Regions from separate parts of the Homo sapiens genome. Here regions 2, 3 and 4 are each reported to be linked to region 1. Evidence: microRNA targets listed by miRTarBase, many of them from high-throughput screens and not tested one by one. Region 1 holds a microRNA gene; each other region holds the end of a gene's coding sequence.

Region 1 (4,000 bases):
CACAATCCGGGTGGGGAGACACTGTGGCAAAGGCCTCAGAAGGACTGGGGTCAAGCAGGGCATGTGAGGAACAGCAAACAGGCTGGGAAGGAGGGAGAGGGAGATGGTCGAGAGTCCCTTGCACGAAAAGCTTGAGGTGGTGAGCTCTGCACCCTGACAAGACTGAGCGAGGAGAAATTCAAGTCCCTGTAGTCATATCTCCCTCCCACCTTTACTGACAGATGCCTGATATCCCCACCCCCTTATCACTATGGGAGATTCCTTGATGCTGTCATTTACAAAGCCCATCCTCTGTAGAGCTCTCATTGACTGCCACTAAACCCTGGCCAGGTAGGCAGAGCACCGGCCCTTGTTCCTTTGCCGGTGAGCGCACTGAAGCTCACCCCCTGGGGTCGACAGCAGGACAGTCCCTGTCATTGATGGATTGTGTATCTGCCCTGTGCCAGGTACTCGTCTAGGTACTCAAGGTACAGCAGCAAACTTAAGTGTTGTTCTCTGCGTACAAAATGACATCAACCACATGCCCATGGGCTCTTGGAGGTGGGAAGTGAGGTGATCATCCCAAAATGATCACCATAATGATACATAGTAAATCATGAAATGTAAATGTACGATATCTCCCATGCTGAAAAGAGGAGGAGGGCGTGCTCCGTAATGTAGGATGGACAGGATCAAGTTTAATAACCTTCATTCGAGCAGAGGCAAGACAAAAGTGAGCTGTCACACAGTTGGGGAAGCACAATTAGGGCAAGGGGACACTGTGGCAAAGGCCTCAGAAGGACTGGGGCCAAGCTGGGCATGTGAGGAACAGCAAACAGGCTGGGATGGAGAGAGAGGGAGTGTGGCCCAAGAGATGGTCGAGAGTCCCTGGGGGTCACCCTGCAGCCGTGACCAAGCCCTAGGCCTCCACCTGGATGAGCTGCATCACCACTGCAGGTTTGGGGCAGACGAACCTGGGCAAAACCTGGGCCCTTTGATACCAAGATCCATGCTTGTTCCACTGGACCGCCCCTTGTCCCACAGATGGGAGAGCTTGTTTTTCTTCTTACTATTATTTCCACAGTTGTAATTCTTTCCATAGCTATTCTGCTAAAACAGTGAAATTGGAGATGAGGAGTCTGGCTTGCGCTGGGTGAGAATGGGTAGAGGAAGCTGTGGAGAGAACTCACGGTGCCTGTGGTTCGAGATCCCCGCCTTCCTCCTCCTTTCCTCTGCCCCTTGGGTTTCACCTTTTCACCTCCGTCACATCTCGACAGCTAGTAAGTCTCGTGGGCCAGCTCCACCTGCCACCTTAGATTAGGAAACGCAAAAGGACAAAAGAGATTTGTTTTTAATCAGCTCCATTCCAGATTAGCACATGTAGATCCTTCCTGTTTTTGTAGAACATTAGCTATAGGCGCAGAAGACTATGTATTCTATAGATTATAATAGAATGTGAGTGAGCACACAAAAAAGGGAGAGATGGGTATTACAGAATCCCAGAATGATAAAACTGGCAGAGACTTTAAGACTGCCTTGTCCAGATGTTTGCATGACAGTGTAAATGTACTTAATGCCAATGAAGTACACTTAAAAATGGTTTAAGATGGTACATGTTATGTTGTGTCTATTTTACTACATAATTTTTTTTTTAAAGACTTCCTTGTCTAGTGCTCCTCTTTAGGTCTGAAAAACAGAGAAGTTGAGTGACTCAGCCATAGCCACACAGCAGGTGAGAGACAGAGCCTAGCCTGGAAACTGCCTTCCTAGCTCTTAGCCCAGTGCCTTTTCCCACGACCACAACTATTGTTTGTTCGTTGGTGGAAATTAATACGGAAAGTAGTCACTCCTTGAGCTTTGAACTCCTGTAATCCAAATATGAGGCATTAGAGTCAACCCAGGATTTCACTAAACCTTTTGCTGTAGAGAACTCCCAGCAGCAATCTTTTGGTTAATTTGAACCTTGCCCCGCTTCTATGGCTCTTAGTGGCGGTGGTGATCACGCTGAAAGGCTAAGACCTTCAGGCAGACGGAGGAAGAGAAACAGCAGGAGATGGACTTGAGTCACAAGCTCTGACTTATGACCCAATGTGGTTTTTCCAAGCTCTTTCTTATTCAATGCTTACTTGAGCTTTTTTTGCACTTCGGGGCAAACAGGGCAGATGCTTGCACGTGCGCTTGCATGTGTGCTTTTGAGATGAAGGAAATACGTGATGTGAGTGAGACAGCCCTTGTGGATGCTGTCTTAATCCTAACTCCAACTCCTCCCCATCCCTCCTCACCTTCTCTGCAAGCCTCCAGGGGTGTGATGATGGGATAGATTAACTGAGCTTTTGAGACCCAAGGACTACCTACAACTCTCTGAGGCAGTGCCCTAGCCAGGAGAGTCAGAGGAAGATTTCAATTTTGAGCACGGGAAGGTAGCAATTCCTAACTTTCCACTCAAAGAACAGTAGGGCAGGAAAACAGGAATTCTTAGGAGGCCCCTGAGCTAAGGAGAGGAGGCTGGTCTAGGAGCTTGGGGCGCTGGGTGGAGGAAGCTCTCAGTGACTTTCACCATAGCCTTGAACAAGTCACCGCGCATCCTGGCCCTCACAGTAGATTAGGTATAGTTAATGATAAGAATTCAACTCACTTCCAAAAGTATTTCCTGAGCACTTAATTTATGTCATACACAATGATGACATCAGATCTTACTGTGTAAGGATGCATGCTGGGTTCCAGGCAGTTTAATGCAGGATTTCTTACCTCTTTTCTTGAGCATACCCTGGAGAGTCCTACTTTCCTGTCAGCAACCATGATGGACCTTAAATGGGAGGGAAAGACTGGGGGTAGGATGCCTAGTTTGAAAAGGATCTTGGGCTCATGGTTCTGTTCACACACACCCTATGCACGCAGACACGTGGGAAATTGGAATCACAGATGTGCACAGACAGAAGATGTGGGTGACCTTCATCAGATGTTAGAACCTGGTCAAGGACAAGGCCTTGGGAGTATGAGGGGCAGGACAGAAGACAAAGGCGGCAGGAAATCTGGGGAAAGAAGATGGTTTTGTTTTTCTTTTTTGAGACAGAGTCTCACTCTGTCACCCAGGCTGGAATGCAGTAGTGCGATCTCAGCTCACTGTAACCTCCGCCTCCCGGGTTCAAACGATTCTCCTGCCTCGGCCTCCTGAGCATCTGGGATTACAGGTGTGCACCACCACGCTCTGCTAATTATCGTATTTTTAGTAGAGATGAGGTTTCACCATGTTGGCCAGGCTGGTCTTGAACTCACCCGCCTTGGCCTCCCAAAGTGTTGGGATTACAGGTTTGAGACACTGGGCCTGACCAGGGAAAGAAGATGGTCTTGATACGAGGGTGTCAGCCTCAGAAGGACCAGGTGATAGGAGTCCACTCCTGCTTGAACATTCCCTGCTTCCTGCCTGGTCCTAAAGAGAGGCACCTGGTATAGCAGAAAGAGCAGCAGCATCAACTTAGGAAGATGTGGGATCAAGTCTTCTCCATTTCCCAGCTAACAGGTTTGGGGAAGTTACCCGAACTCTCTGAGTCTCGATATTCTCATCTGTAAAATGGGATGTTAATATCCTACGTGTCTAATACAAAGGGCTGTAGTGAGGCCAAAATGCAAGTAAGGTGAAAGGTCTTTGTGGACTGTGGTCTGTCATGTTAGTTACACGTCTGCCAAAAGTTGTAGACAAAGCTGTGGGCTTCCTGGTTGGTTAGGTCTCGGTTTGAATTCTGTGGTGCCCTATCATTATGCAAATGTGACTTTGAGAAAGCTAGTTAATCTCTTGTTCCCTCATCGCAGGGGTGATGATGATGTGATTCATGGTTCGCTAAGGTGCTCAAGGTTTGAGCTCCCCAGTGGATTATCAGCTGCATGAAAAGACCTTGTCAGTCTTGTTCACCCATGTGGGTGTCCTCAGCCCTGGAATAGTAGCTGGCAGCTAGAAGGTGCTCAGTGAGTAATGTTTGGCTGGTCAGATGAATGCGTGAATGAATGAATGTGAATGAGGAGT
Region 2 (4,000 bases), not on the chromosome of region 1:
GAAGAACTCTGCTTCCTGGGCGCTCTGCCGCTGCAACAATAACTGGGTGGTGAGACACAATAGCAAGGAAATCCCCATTGAGCCTGCCCCCCACCTCCGGCGCGTGGGCATCCTGCTGGACTATGATAACGGCTCTATCGCCTTTTATGATGCTTTGAACTCCATCCACCTCTACACCTTCGACGTCGCATTTGCGCAGCCTGTTTGCCCCACCTTCACCGTGTGGAACAAGTGTCTGACGATTATCACTGGGCTCCCTATCCCAGACCATTTGGACTGCACAGAGCAGCTGCCGTGAGCGTCTGGCCACATGGAGCTGCTTTCTGGGGAACAGTAAGGTTCAGGCCACTATTTAGGGGACTGAGAAAGCACAGGCTTCATGAGTGTAATGAAATCTCACCAGAAGTGTCCCGAAATCGGCTCAGATAGGGCTCAAAACAAGAGATTCCTCTCCTTTTACTGTGTCTTGTATTAAGTACGGGCTTTAATAATTTCTTTAATTTTTTTGTATTTAGAGGAAAATCTATAGATTATTTATAAGAGAAACATAATCAGGATTACAACTTTTAGGAATTACTTGGTTTTGCACATTAAGAGGCCCATAAGTTTATCAGCTATTTACAACCTTCATTTCATCACAATCTGTGGGCTTACAAAAAAACAAAAACTTTTGTAGTTTTGTATGTTACTCATCTTCTTACCTGATATCCCATGATGATCCCATGGTAGGTCTTCTCACCTCGATGGTGCATAACAGGATGTGTTTGAACCTAGTAGGGGAGGAAACAGGCTTTCTTACTCTGGTTTAATTTGAAGTGTTTTAATTGTGATGTCAAAAAGTTGTATCAGATCAACTAAAATGGAGAGCAAGACAGAGAATGAAAAGAGTTGATTTTGGACCTCGGACCTTGCCGTGGCTAAATCTTTACCTTCTCATAGCTGATGGGATAATGTTGGAAAGAAAGGTTCTGAATCCTTTGGCCACATTTTGCCCTGCTTCTCTCAGGGTTAAGGGTTCTGGAAGAACATTAAGAATGAGATTGCAATTGAAAATAGTCATTTTGAATCCTATTGATTATTCAAAAATTCAGGCTGATTTGTCTTTTATCAGAGGTAGGATTCTGTTTTATAGTATAGAATCTACTTTATCCTTCCTTTTAATAGTTCCTTTAGACCTGTGAAATTTCTTCACTACATTTAATAGTTCTCCTATTTCCCGCTCCCCCATATCAATTTTCCTTTTGTCTCCGGGGCTGAGTAAATAAACATGTTCTGTCACAAATAGCAGCACCACTTTGGATTGATTTTGCTCTCCAGGACATCAGCACATGGCCCTGATCAGCACTACCACATCCAAACATAAGTCACTGAAAAACACTTAATATTTATGAGTTGGTAATGACAAGGGACATTGTATAAAGTACTATTTGCTAGATTCATGCCTCAAAAGTTATTATAAACAGACCTTTATTAAACACATCTTGAAAGATGTAGAAGTCCCTCTATAGTCTAGTATAGTTTACAATAGAGTTGTAAGACCAAAAAAAAAAAAAAAAAATTCAAACTCGTTATTCAGGAACCTGCTTATAAAATGTCAGCTGGGATTCTTTGCATGCCAATCTGATGCGTTGGAATGGTCCATGAATTAAGGCTTTCTTGAGCAGTTCTTGGCCCAGAACTCTGGCATTGGTTCTAGTTTGATGAAGGGCATGACCTCTATAAATGGTTTCAATTGCTAAAATATTTACCTGGGATACTGGGTCAGCCATTTTGACTGAGCAGACTAGTGGATTTAGACATTGTTTTTAGTTATTTTGTTTTTAACCAAATCAACCAACTGCCTCCCTGAAATAAGTCAATGAACTCATTGTTTCAGCATCACGTGGCCAAAGGTCATGTGATTGCAAATCTGGATTTCAAGGGAGGCCAAGCCAGCTTCCTGGGTCCTTCCATCCTCTTCCCTAGCAGACACTCTCCTTTTTCTTAACAGATAGATTCTATATATTTACTATATTATTTATACCCAGATGAATATTTTGATAGATACCTAAGACAATTTCACATCTAAAAGATGGACGCCTCAATGGAAAAAAAACAATCTTTCTCTGGAAACCTTATAGGTTTTTCTTTTTATTACAATATAAAAGCAATGTGTGTTTGCCTTCTCTGAGTAAACTGAAAGGGTTGTCTCAGTAATTTTTACATACATTTTGGGTAACTGGATAATGGATATTTTAATGCACTTTGTACACTAACAGGTTCTAAATAAAAGGGTCTAAAACTCAGCTTCTGAGTTTTTAAAATCACGGTCTCCAGGTACCAATAAATGCTACAGTTTGCCTTATGATGTTAACATAAAACACTTAGTAGAAGGACAATATTTCCATGAAAATAATGTTTTTCAATATTAAGAAGTTACTACTCAAATTTTCACAGTAAGCCATTTAGGGTATGTTTGGCTATTTTTATAAGGACATGAGAGATTATGTCATAATTTTGTTGTGGAAGTCTCACTCTTGGCTAACTTAAAAGCATTGTGGATAGTAGCAGTTACTAGTTCCAGGTTGTCATATTTACAGGAAAATATGTATATGGTGAAAGGCCACCGTGTTTAATTACTATAATGATGTAGAAAAGATTCCCGTGTGAATTTTTTTTTTGAAAGTCTAAAAAATGTATGCTGTAAAAATTTGCTGCAGTGTAATTTTGCATTCTCTTTAAACTGATTGAGGTCACAGTATTTTATTATTTGGGGTCCTCACCACAGGAAACACTGCGATACAGGGGCAAAAGAGATGGCAGTGCCAATTAAATTAATACAACAAAATCAATGCAGCACCAACCAAGACTGCCAGGTCTGGTGTCATGGGTATGCCCAGAGCCCAGGAGTTCAGAAGGGCCCTAAGCCTGATTTAATGCTCTGCTGTTGATGTCTTGAAATTCTTAACAATTTTTGAACAAGGGGCCTGCGTTTTCACTTCGCACTGGGCCTTGCAAATTACATAGCGAGTGCTCATAAAAGAACTCAGAAACGTGGTACCTCTCTTCCTGGTGGATACAAATAAAGAAATCTGGATCCAAAGTTGAAAGTTGCTGGCGATATCATTCAAGTAGGACTCTAAATAGTGGATTAAGATGAGGGTGGGCCTGGGTGAAGATTCTTTCCAGCTTTAAAAGAAAGTGACTTCAAAAACTGACTGCAAATATTGACGATGGTTTCTGCTGGAGGAAAAGAAACAGCTTGAATACAGACAGGCTTTTTTATTACGGTACTGATATATTGACCTTAAACTTGCTGAGGAACTGAACTAACGTCCTCCAGTGACCGTGGAATTCCATCTCAGCTCCAGGAACATGCAGATACCTGCAAAGAGACACGCATATATGCTGGCATACATGTGCATTTGGTGTTGGGAAGTTGACCATCTGGTCTATCTTAATAAAATGGTAAAAAGCACACCAAGACAATGATGGGGGCAGGAGGATGTTTTTGAAAACAGCGCTTCTCAACCAGTGCTCGATTTTGCCCCCCAGGAGACATTTGGCAATGCAATGGCAACTTTTGGTTGTCGCAGCCGGGGAAGGGAAGCTACCAGCATCTAGTGCGTAGAGGTCATGGACGCCGTTAAACATCCTACAGTGCAAGCGCAGCCCCCGACCACGAAGAGTTGTCTTGCTCAAATATCAACAGTGCTGCAGTGTAGAAACTTGATCGTTGGTTTTCTTTTAATGCAAAACTCTCATAAAAACCTTTCACTTTTCCTGTCATTGATTATATGCTTGATACACCCAAAAAGAAAAGGGGAGGGGCACCAATTCACCTACACTCCAGTGGCTCCATCACCTTTAAAAATATTTATAAAATAGTTCCAAAAATCTGATATCTGAAAAGCAATCCAAGCCTGTGTAAATGGGAATCACTGATAAGTATCATCATCTGTATCAGCTTGGCTTGGACATGAAAAATTGATTCTCTTTATGTCACTCCTTGCACCTGGAC
Region 3 (4,000 bases), not on the chromosome of region 1:
TGGCTTCCCAAAGTGCTGAGATTACAGGCATGAGCCACTATGCCCAACCTGAGCAGGATGACTTAAACCTGATCAATTCTACTCCAAAACAGCAACTATCATTAAGTCAGGGGTGTCAAGGAGGACTCTGTGAAGGCAAAGACTAGACTGGGATGTGTGCGAGAGTGGGATAAGAAGGCCCATCCCTAGCAGACTGCAGGAGTGACTCTGGCATAGAATTCATGGCCAGCCCTAACTAGTGTGATGGGTGGCAGGGAGGAGGCATCTGCTCAGTGTTCAAACAAAATCCTTACAAGTTCTGGGGCTGGACCTCTGTGTCACTCCTGAATCCCAATGTATCCGTTACCTTTACAAGAAACTGGTGTGGTTCTTGTCTGCTAAGGGCAAGACCTGTTTTCTGAATTTACTTTCTGATAATAAAGTAACACCATGGAAAAGAAGAACCTCAGAAAAATATGGGGTCACCACATGGGCTTTCCCAGTGCTAGCTGCCTGTTTTGGAAAGCTGCAATGTAGGCTACAGAGGGCAGTCTGAAAAGAGTCCTTCTGCTTTCGCTTCCTGGAGCTTAAGAAGAAAAGAGGAATTACCAAGGTTGTGGTGGGTTATTTACTCTGGAAATATCTTGGTCACACTGTCCGTGGCAAAAGCGGAAAGCCTAGCTTATGTGGATAGTTGAAGGTGACTGTGTGGGCCATCATTATCTACAATAGAAATGACTCAAGCCCTAGCATGTAATCTCTTAGGGACTTAACAAGTTAAAAAGAAACAAAAAATCATATTGGAAATGGCCTCTTGGTTTAATATAAACTTGGTTACAACATTCAAATTTATCTTTACGGAAATTTCACACTGCTCCTAGGAGCCCTTATAGCATCTGATTCTAAGTTATTCTGAAGGAAAAAAAAATTATTCTGAAATATACCTTATTAGGATGATCACTGGAATTCTACCAGATATAAGTAAAAGGCTAAATGGGTTTTAAATAAATACAAGCTAAATTACCTTCTTCTGGGGTTAACAATTAGAATCCCAAATACCCCAACATCTCAACTAGAAAGGCCTTCACAGTAATTCTATGAAATTGTAAATGATGCCAAATTTTTTTTTTTTTTTTGAGATGGAGTCTTGCACTGTCACCCGGGGTGGAATACAATGGTGCAATCTCGGCTCACTGCAACCTCCACTCCCAGGTTCAAGCGATTCTCCTGCCTGAGCCTCTCAAGTAGCTGGGATTACAGGCGCCCACCACCATGCCCAGCTAATTTTTTGTATTTTTAGTAGAGACGGGGTTTCACTATGTTGGCCAGGCTGGTCTTGAACCCCTGACCTCGTGATCCGCCCGCCTCGGCCTCCCAAAGTGCTGGGATTACAGGTGTGGGTCACCGTGCCTGGCCAATGCCAATTTTTGAAAACAGATTTGATCTTTAGGGTAAATGCCTGAGTCAGCTGACAAACTCCATATACATGAATATGTCCAAGTGAAATTACCTAAAGAATAATTTTTTTTCTTTCTTTTTTTTTTTTTAAGAGACAGGGTCTCACTGTGTCACCCAGACTGGAGTGCAGTGGCATGATCACAGCTCACTGTTGCCTTGACCTCCTGGGCTCAAGTGATCCTTCCACCTCAGCCTCCTAAGTATTTGGGACTACATGCATGCATCACCACACCTGACAAATTAAAAAAAAATTTTTTTTTTGCCAGGTGCAGTGGCTCACATCTGTAATCCCAGCACTCTGAGAGGCTGAGGTGGGCGGATCACCTGAGGTTGGGAGTTTGAGACCAGCCTGACCAACACAGAGAAACCCTGTCTCTATTAAAAATACAAAATTCGCCCGGCATGGTGGCGCATGCCTGTAATCCCAGCTACTCAGGAGGTTGAGGCAGGAGAATCACTTTAATCTGGGAGGCGGAGGTTGCGGTGAGCCAAGACCGCACCATTGCACTCCAGCCTGGGCAACAAGAGCGAAACTCCGTCTCAAAAAGAAAACAAAAAAAAAATTTTTGTTTTTGTAGAGACAGGATCTCACTCTGTTGCCTAGGCTGGTCTTAAGCGATCCTCCCAGCTCAGCCTCCCAAAGCACTACAATTATAGGCATGAGCCATTGAGCCTGGCCTGAGAATTTTCTTTAATTTCAAAAAAATAGCTGCTGCTTCTTTAAAGAGTTTAAAAATTGATCGGTTCAATGGCAAAGCTACACAACAACTCTGGAGTAGAAGGAAAGAACTCTCTTTATAGTACAACCTCTTTCCAGCATACTGCCATCAGCTAGTAGAGGCAACTGCAAACAAATGGTAGGAGTTGCCCAGGAAGGTATTTGGGCTGGACAAAGTGATAGCAACCCTCCAGACCCTGGCTCCTTATAAATGTATAGCAATTCATTCATACAAACTGCACAGAGGTTAAACAAAACCTACTAAAAAAATTAAAAAATCCCACAAAATCCCCAACCCAGAAAACGTTTCCTGGCTCTCTACTAACAGTAAAATGTGCTGAGCCCAAATTTTCTGCTCTAACATGGGTCCCACGGACCTATCAGTCTGCTCTGGGGTGCTGACCTGCTGGGTCCTGAGCAGGGTCTTTCCCTAAGCATCACTGTGGGTTTGGAGACAGCTGTAATGTGTGCAGCTGTCAGCAGAAAGTACAATGCCACTGGGCTACATATGTCCATATCATCCACCACCATTTCCCACTGTAAAACCAAAGGCTGCAACTGTGAACAAATGTGGACTTCCTCAAAGGACAAATGAGGAGACTGAAGGCTACATTTCCTCCTTTGAGAACCATTAGAGAGTGTCTACAGTTATACAACAGGTTTCTGCAGACCCTGTGGTAACTTCCAAAAGCAAGAGTAGCAGCAAGAGAGGAAAGGAGCATGTTTATACTTTGGACTTTGTATCAGGCACTTAAATTGTTGGAGAGACATGCCGTTTTGAACCAAAGATATAAAAACTGGGTTGGAGTAATCTTTACAAGTGGTCTAATGAATGGGCCTTCAGAAGCAAAGTGGAGGTGTGGGTTGAACCTCTGCCCATCCTTTAGTGCTGACTTTCAAGTTTTCTAAATGCCCATAACCACAGCAATGGCAGCAGTGGCGGCAACGGCAGGAACAGTTCTGTCATGTCTGTTTTCTGTATGTGTTCTGTGGCTGACCAGAAGGTTTTGGTGTCACACTAAGAAGGCTCTGGGGTGTGGCACACCTACTGCCCGAGGTTGCCCAGATCCACGCTGGAGCCAAACATCTTCACCAGCTGTTCCTCATAGTGTGAGATGTTCCTCTTCATGATGTCCATGCAGGGCCCCAGAAGCCTCTCGAATGCTTGTACATCCATAACTGCATTGTTAAAAAGAGGTGAGGGAGAGAATGAATTCAAGCCATTTCCCTCATGCAAACCTTTTCCTAAACATACCCATTCATGTTGTATGAGATTACGCCTTGGGACACCAGCCACTTGCAAAAAGGGATGTTTCTATATGAATTCAGAAGACTGTCATCCAGGTTAGAGACTTTACAGAGTCCAGCAGCTCCTGTTCTCCCCATTCTCCCACAGCCCTGGACATCAGTTCTTTTCATACGGCTAAAGAACCTGCATGCCTGTCTTGCTCACAGGCTGTCATCAGTACTCAGAAATGTTTGCTGAAAGCATCCATTCATCCATCTCTGGTTGGTCACATAAACTGCCTAGGCCTAGACAGCAGTAAAAGATGGCAGAATATGTCAAGGCTTGCTGATGGGAAAAAAATATTACATGTTAGAAAAAGAATATTAATGCATAAAGAACTTTTCTTACCTAAGCATTTGACATCTCCAACTGCATAAGCTGAGGCAGCTCTGGGTTTGTTGGTGACCAGGGCAAGCTCTCCAAAGTACTGCCCCTTATGGCAGCGGGCAATCTCGACCTCCTGGTTCCCACCATCCTTGTTTGATTTAGTCTACAGCAGGCAAAGAACATGACCTAGGCTGACTCCAGGATCACAGCTGGGCATGTCCAGTTGCACA
Region 4 (4,000 bases), not on the chromosome of region 1:
GCAAGGAGTAGATGAAAGACTGATAAATGAAGCTGAGGTCCCCCCAGTGCTTCCCTTTCAATAGTTTATGCTAAAAATATTTGTTTTTTAAAACTCTGCGCTTTCTTCATTTTTATTGGAACGCAATTTGTGAACCACAACTGAGTCTGTATGCAGGATCTCCAGAACGCAAATCAGAAAAAAATTTGAGATTTTATTCAGATTTTTCTATTAGATTGAGCCACTAATGTTCGGTAAGGGGCACTTGATGGTTAAAAAACACAACTGGCATGATAAAACTACACTAAATAATATCTACTTTATTTGAACAGTCATATCAAGAATGGCCCTAAATTTAATCAAGGACTAAATTTAATGAAAGACTCTGACATTAAAGACTCTGGATTGTTTGAAGGTATTTTGCCTGCAGGTGAGACTGGTTTTGAGGGCACAGAAACGTAGCCTGAATGAACCATTCAGAACTCATCATGCATCCAACTGAACACGTTTCATGCTTACTCAATTTTTTTTTTTTAAATGCAACAGGCTCAGTTTTCTCACATTGGTGCATCTCTTCATGCTAGAACTGCTTATGTCTACAGAGTCCCTGAAGAAGCAAAAATCCTTTTTTTAGCATTAAACATAGCATATGGAGTTCTTCCTCAGCTCTTGGCCTATCGTTGTATCTACAAACCAGAGTTCTTCATAAAAACAAAGGCAGAAGAAAAAGTGGAATAAAAATATTACTTCATGTTCCTCCTTTCTAAATTACTAACTTTTGTTATACTGGTACTGATATTTTGTCCCATTTCACTCTCTTCTCATACGTGAGTACTTAAGAATATGTACATTCTTGCTCTGCACTGTATGTGTGAGCTATATGGTATTGTGTAAATTTTTTTTGAAGGAAAATGGAAATTCTTGAGAAACAGTTTGTTTAAAGAAATATATTCAAAATCATTTGTGAATAAACTTGATCATCCATCTCAATATTGTTTGACATATAAAATAATTATAAGTGTAAAAAATTACAATTTAGTGCCAACAGTAGTGAGCATGAAATGAAACTATTCAAAAGAGAATATGGCCTGTGCATATTAAAAAATTCAAAACAGTGAATGCAGACTGGAGGAGTAACTTTTGCAAATAAGATGAATATGCTTCATTATTAAACTCAATATAAAAGGCAAATCATCAGAATATTTTTAAATGTTGTTTGAAAAATGTTTTCCCAAGGAAAGTTTATTATTTGCTGCTGTTTCAAGAAAATTACTTTTACTAAATTTTTTTGTGTGAATTTAAACAGCTAAATAGGGATCAGTAACTTTATCTCTATCCTTAATGAACATTTGTTTTATTGGTGGCTGGAAATATTTCTATTGTATTTCTGTGTATATTTTTAATAAAATTATTTTTGGCCTCTTATAAAGACAAATCTTATTAAATTTGAAACATTTCATATATACACATAAAACGCTTTTAAAGAAAATTTGTGAGTTGTATATTCCAATTCAAAATGCCATCTACATTCCCCTTATGTTTCAGTGTGAGCAATGAAGAGGTCTTTTGATGAATTAAATTTCATTAATTAAAAAATACATTCAAATATTCAAAATTAAAAAGGACCTTTTAAGGAAGAAGTATTAGATCGACATCCCTACTATCTTTTTATGAACTTTTCATGTTTGGGATTGTATGTTGAGTATACTAGAGAAAATCAGTATTCACTAAATGAAAGAAACACACCAAAAATACAAACAGCCACCTCCTCACTGTGCCCTGGAATGATAAATGGACTGGTGCTTTCATACCCTTAGCTGCCATCATCACCATCATCATTATTAACGGCCCTAGGCTTTTAGGTCTGCTCACATTTTCTCATGTTTTTATTAGCTCTCATCAAGAAAACCAAAAGAAAATGGGATACAAATCAATGCATGGATAATATCAAATTACAAAATCTAGGGTCCACTGGGCTGGTAAATATGTAAGTGTAAGCAAATCATGTAGTCATCTCCCCATCATCCCCTACAGTGTTTTCAAATAATCTAAAACCCAGAGAGTGTTTAAAAAAAAAAAAAGAAAGAAAAAGAAAAACCCTCACCTGCACTTGATTCTATTGTCAGCTTGCTGTGAACAATTTTTGCTTTAATATATGAATTACATTAATACCTCACGTTACATATATGAAGCCAAATTACACTAACTTAGTTTGCTTACAACCTCAAATCTTACTCCCAGTACACATTCCAATAAATTTATTCTGTAAAAACAATACATTTTTTTGTTTTTGATTTTTTTACAGTAAACTTTTCAACTACAAACCGTGAATACGCGAAAGATGTTCCAAGGACAAGCATTAACAGGATTGATAAAACCCAAACTGACTAAATGTGTTCTCACAATATAAGCTGGCATAAAAATAAATAAAATTCTCTATTATCACAATAGCAACAATAATGTACACATAATAATGGTTTAAGGATGAATATTAACTATTCTAATTGTAGTTCCAAAAGAAAACAGTTTATTTTAAAAGTCTACATTTAAAAGTCAATGCTTTGTCTGGTTTCCCATAGGGCTGTTGCTGATTCCAGCTTTAAAATGTAAAGTATCCACCTTGAGTGCTTAGCTCAAAATTGTATTGGCACTGGGAAAAAAATAAATCATTGCCTTTATTTTGGAGTAACACAAAAAGACTCACTAACTTCACATATAGAAACTTAGTTTGTGTACATAACAATATGAATTTTGAGAAGTATAAGCTGTCAACTAGCTATTTCTAATACGGAATAGATATTTTACAATATGGTTAAACTTTACACATGGCCTCAAAACTGAAGGACAATTTTAATTTCGTCTTCAATATACCAACGTTATGTATTTAGGAATTAATTCCTGGGTTCTGTCACAGAGAGGAAATTCCATTCTTAAGCATTATGTTGAGTGGTCATCTAAAAAATGTTAATTTATATTTAACTGAGTGTTTGATGATGGTGGGGTCAAGGCAGGAAAACGATGATCATAACTGCCTTGATAAAAGGATCCTAGACATGTATAAGTCTGCGCAAAAATCTTGATAATCCTTAGTGGTTAAGGGCAACTTCATGCAACCAAATAACATGAAATTAAATCAGTAACTTTTAAAAAAGGCTAAAATGTCTTTTCCCCCCGAAACACAACAGAGAGGAATATGAATAATGTACATACAAACTGGGGTTCTGTCAATGACAACAAGGACTATGTGTTGGTTCATATCAAATCCAAGAATATTAGACAACCAAACATATAACCTTCTTGTGGTTTCTCTTAATATGCAGCATTCATTATGGTAGTTAGGTCTGTAAAAAAAAAAAAAAGAAAGAAAACAAGCCTTTAGATGATTTAGGATACTAACAATGAGAGCTATCCACACCTAGATAGTACATAATTGGGTTTTCTGAAATTTTAATATGCACTGCAGCATTAACAATACTTACTGAGCAAGAGCAGCTTCTGTGGCTTTGCTTTAGACCTGTCAGTGCAAAAAGTTAAAGGAAATCCTAGGGTATTTTTAGTGTCCCATAGAAAAAAATTATAAACCTTGTCTACTGTCTGTTAGGACAGAGTGCAGCAGTGCACATTCTACAATTCTAGGACTATGTTTATTGCTGGAATACATCATCAGTGGAGAAATTGATATAATCTATCTTTGTGAGGACATTCTTCAGAAAGAAAGGTAAGCTGTGTAAAATTTAAAAAGCACTTAGAGTGTGCACCAATTAATCTTCAGAATATTTATAACTTAATTACTTGTGACACATAGCTCAAACAAATGTAGAAGTTAATCATGATGTACAAAGTCTCTGACTTCTTGCTTTTAAAAAAAACATAAAGAATAAGAGGAAGCCTAGATTTCTTTTAAAATTTAGATGGCATCCGTGTGACAAACAGAAAATAAAACATTTGTTTCATAAAAGAATTATGTTTCTATTTGGGTCCCACTTTAAATTGTGTCTGGTTCTATTTCCCCAAAAGGATG

The links. Region 1 holds the annotated microRNA hsa-miR-3125 (UAGAGGAAGCUGUGGAGAGA, at 1,144-1,163, shown strand). A microRNA usually pairs through its seed, bases 2 to 8, with sites in the 3' UTR of a target mRNA and lowers its output. Matches are read on the target gene's strand: a 7mer-m8 pairs with bases 2 to 8, a 7mer-A1 pairs with bases 2 to 7 and ends in A, and an 8mer does both.
Region 2: the mRNA of MID1 is a reported target of hsa-miR-3125. Seed matches in the 3' UTR shown: 7mer-m8 at 446-452.
Region 3: miRTarBase lists PRKAR2A as a target of hsa-miR-3125. Seed matches in the 3' UTR shown: 7mer-m8 at 2,863-2,869 and 7mer-m8 at 578-584.
Region 4: the mRNA of HDGFL3 is a reported target of hsa-miR-3125. Seed matches in the 3' UTR shown: 7mer-m8 at 3,165-3,171 and 7mer-m8 at 2,894-2,900.

Annotation. Positions count from the first base shown.
Region 1 is chr2:12,736,233-12,740,232 of GRCh38, forward strand. MIR3125 (microRNA 3125) reads left to right here and starts at 1,135; the gene lies at 1,135-1,212. The region is part of intron 2 of TRIB2 (tribbles pseudokinase 2); the gene reads left to right.
Region 2 is chrX:10,445,666-10,449,665 of GRCh38, reverse strand. It overlaps MID1 (midline 1), which reads left to right. Exons shown (of 10, transcript NM_000381.4): 10 at 1-4,000. The coding sequence ends at 298. Among named protein-coding and RNA genes, the nearest start is that of MID1, 170 kb to the left of the region's middle. RefSeq lists an enhancer at 1-727.
Region 3 is chr3:48,748,385-48,752,384 of GRCh38, forward strand. PRKAR2A (protein kinase cAMP-dependent type II regulatory subunit alpha) reads right to left here. Exons shown (of 11, transcript NM_004157.4): 10 at 3,792-3,933; 11 at 1-3,334. The coding sequence ends at 3,201. Among named protein-coding and RNA genes, the nearest start is that of IP6K2, 33 kb to the left of the region's middle.
Region 4 is chr15:83,135,956-83,139,955 of GRCh38, forward strand. It overlaps HDGFL3 (HDGF like 3), which reads right to left. Exons shown (of 6, transcript NM_016073.4): 6 at 1-3,320. The coding sequence ends at 3,315. TM6SF1 (transmembrane 6 superfamily member 1) reads left to right here. Exons shown (of 10, transcript NM_023003.5): 10 at 526-1,453. The coding sequence ends at 717. Among named protein-coding and RNA genes, the nearest start is that of TM6SF1, 30 kb to the left of the region's middle.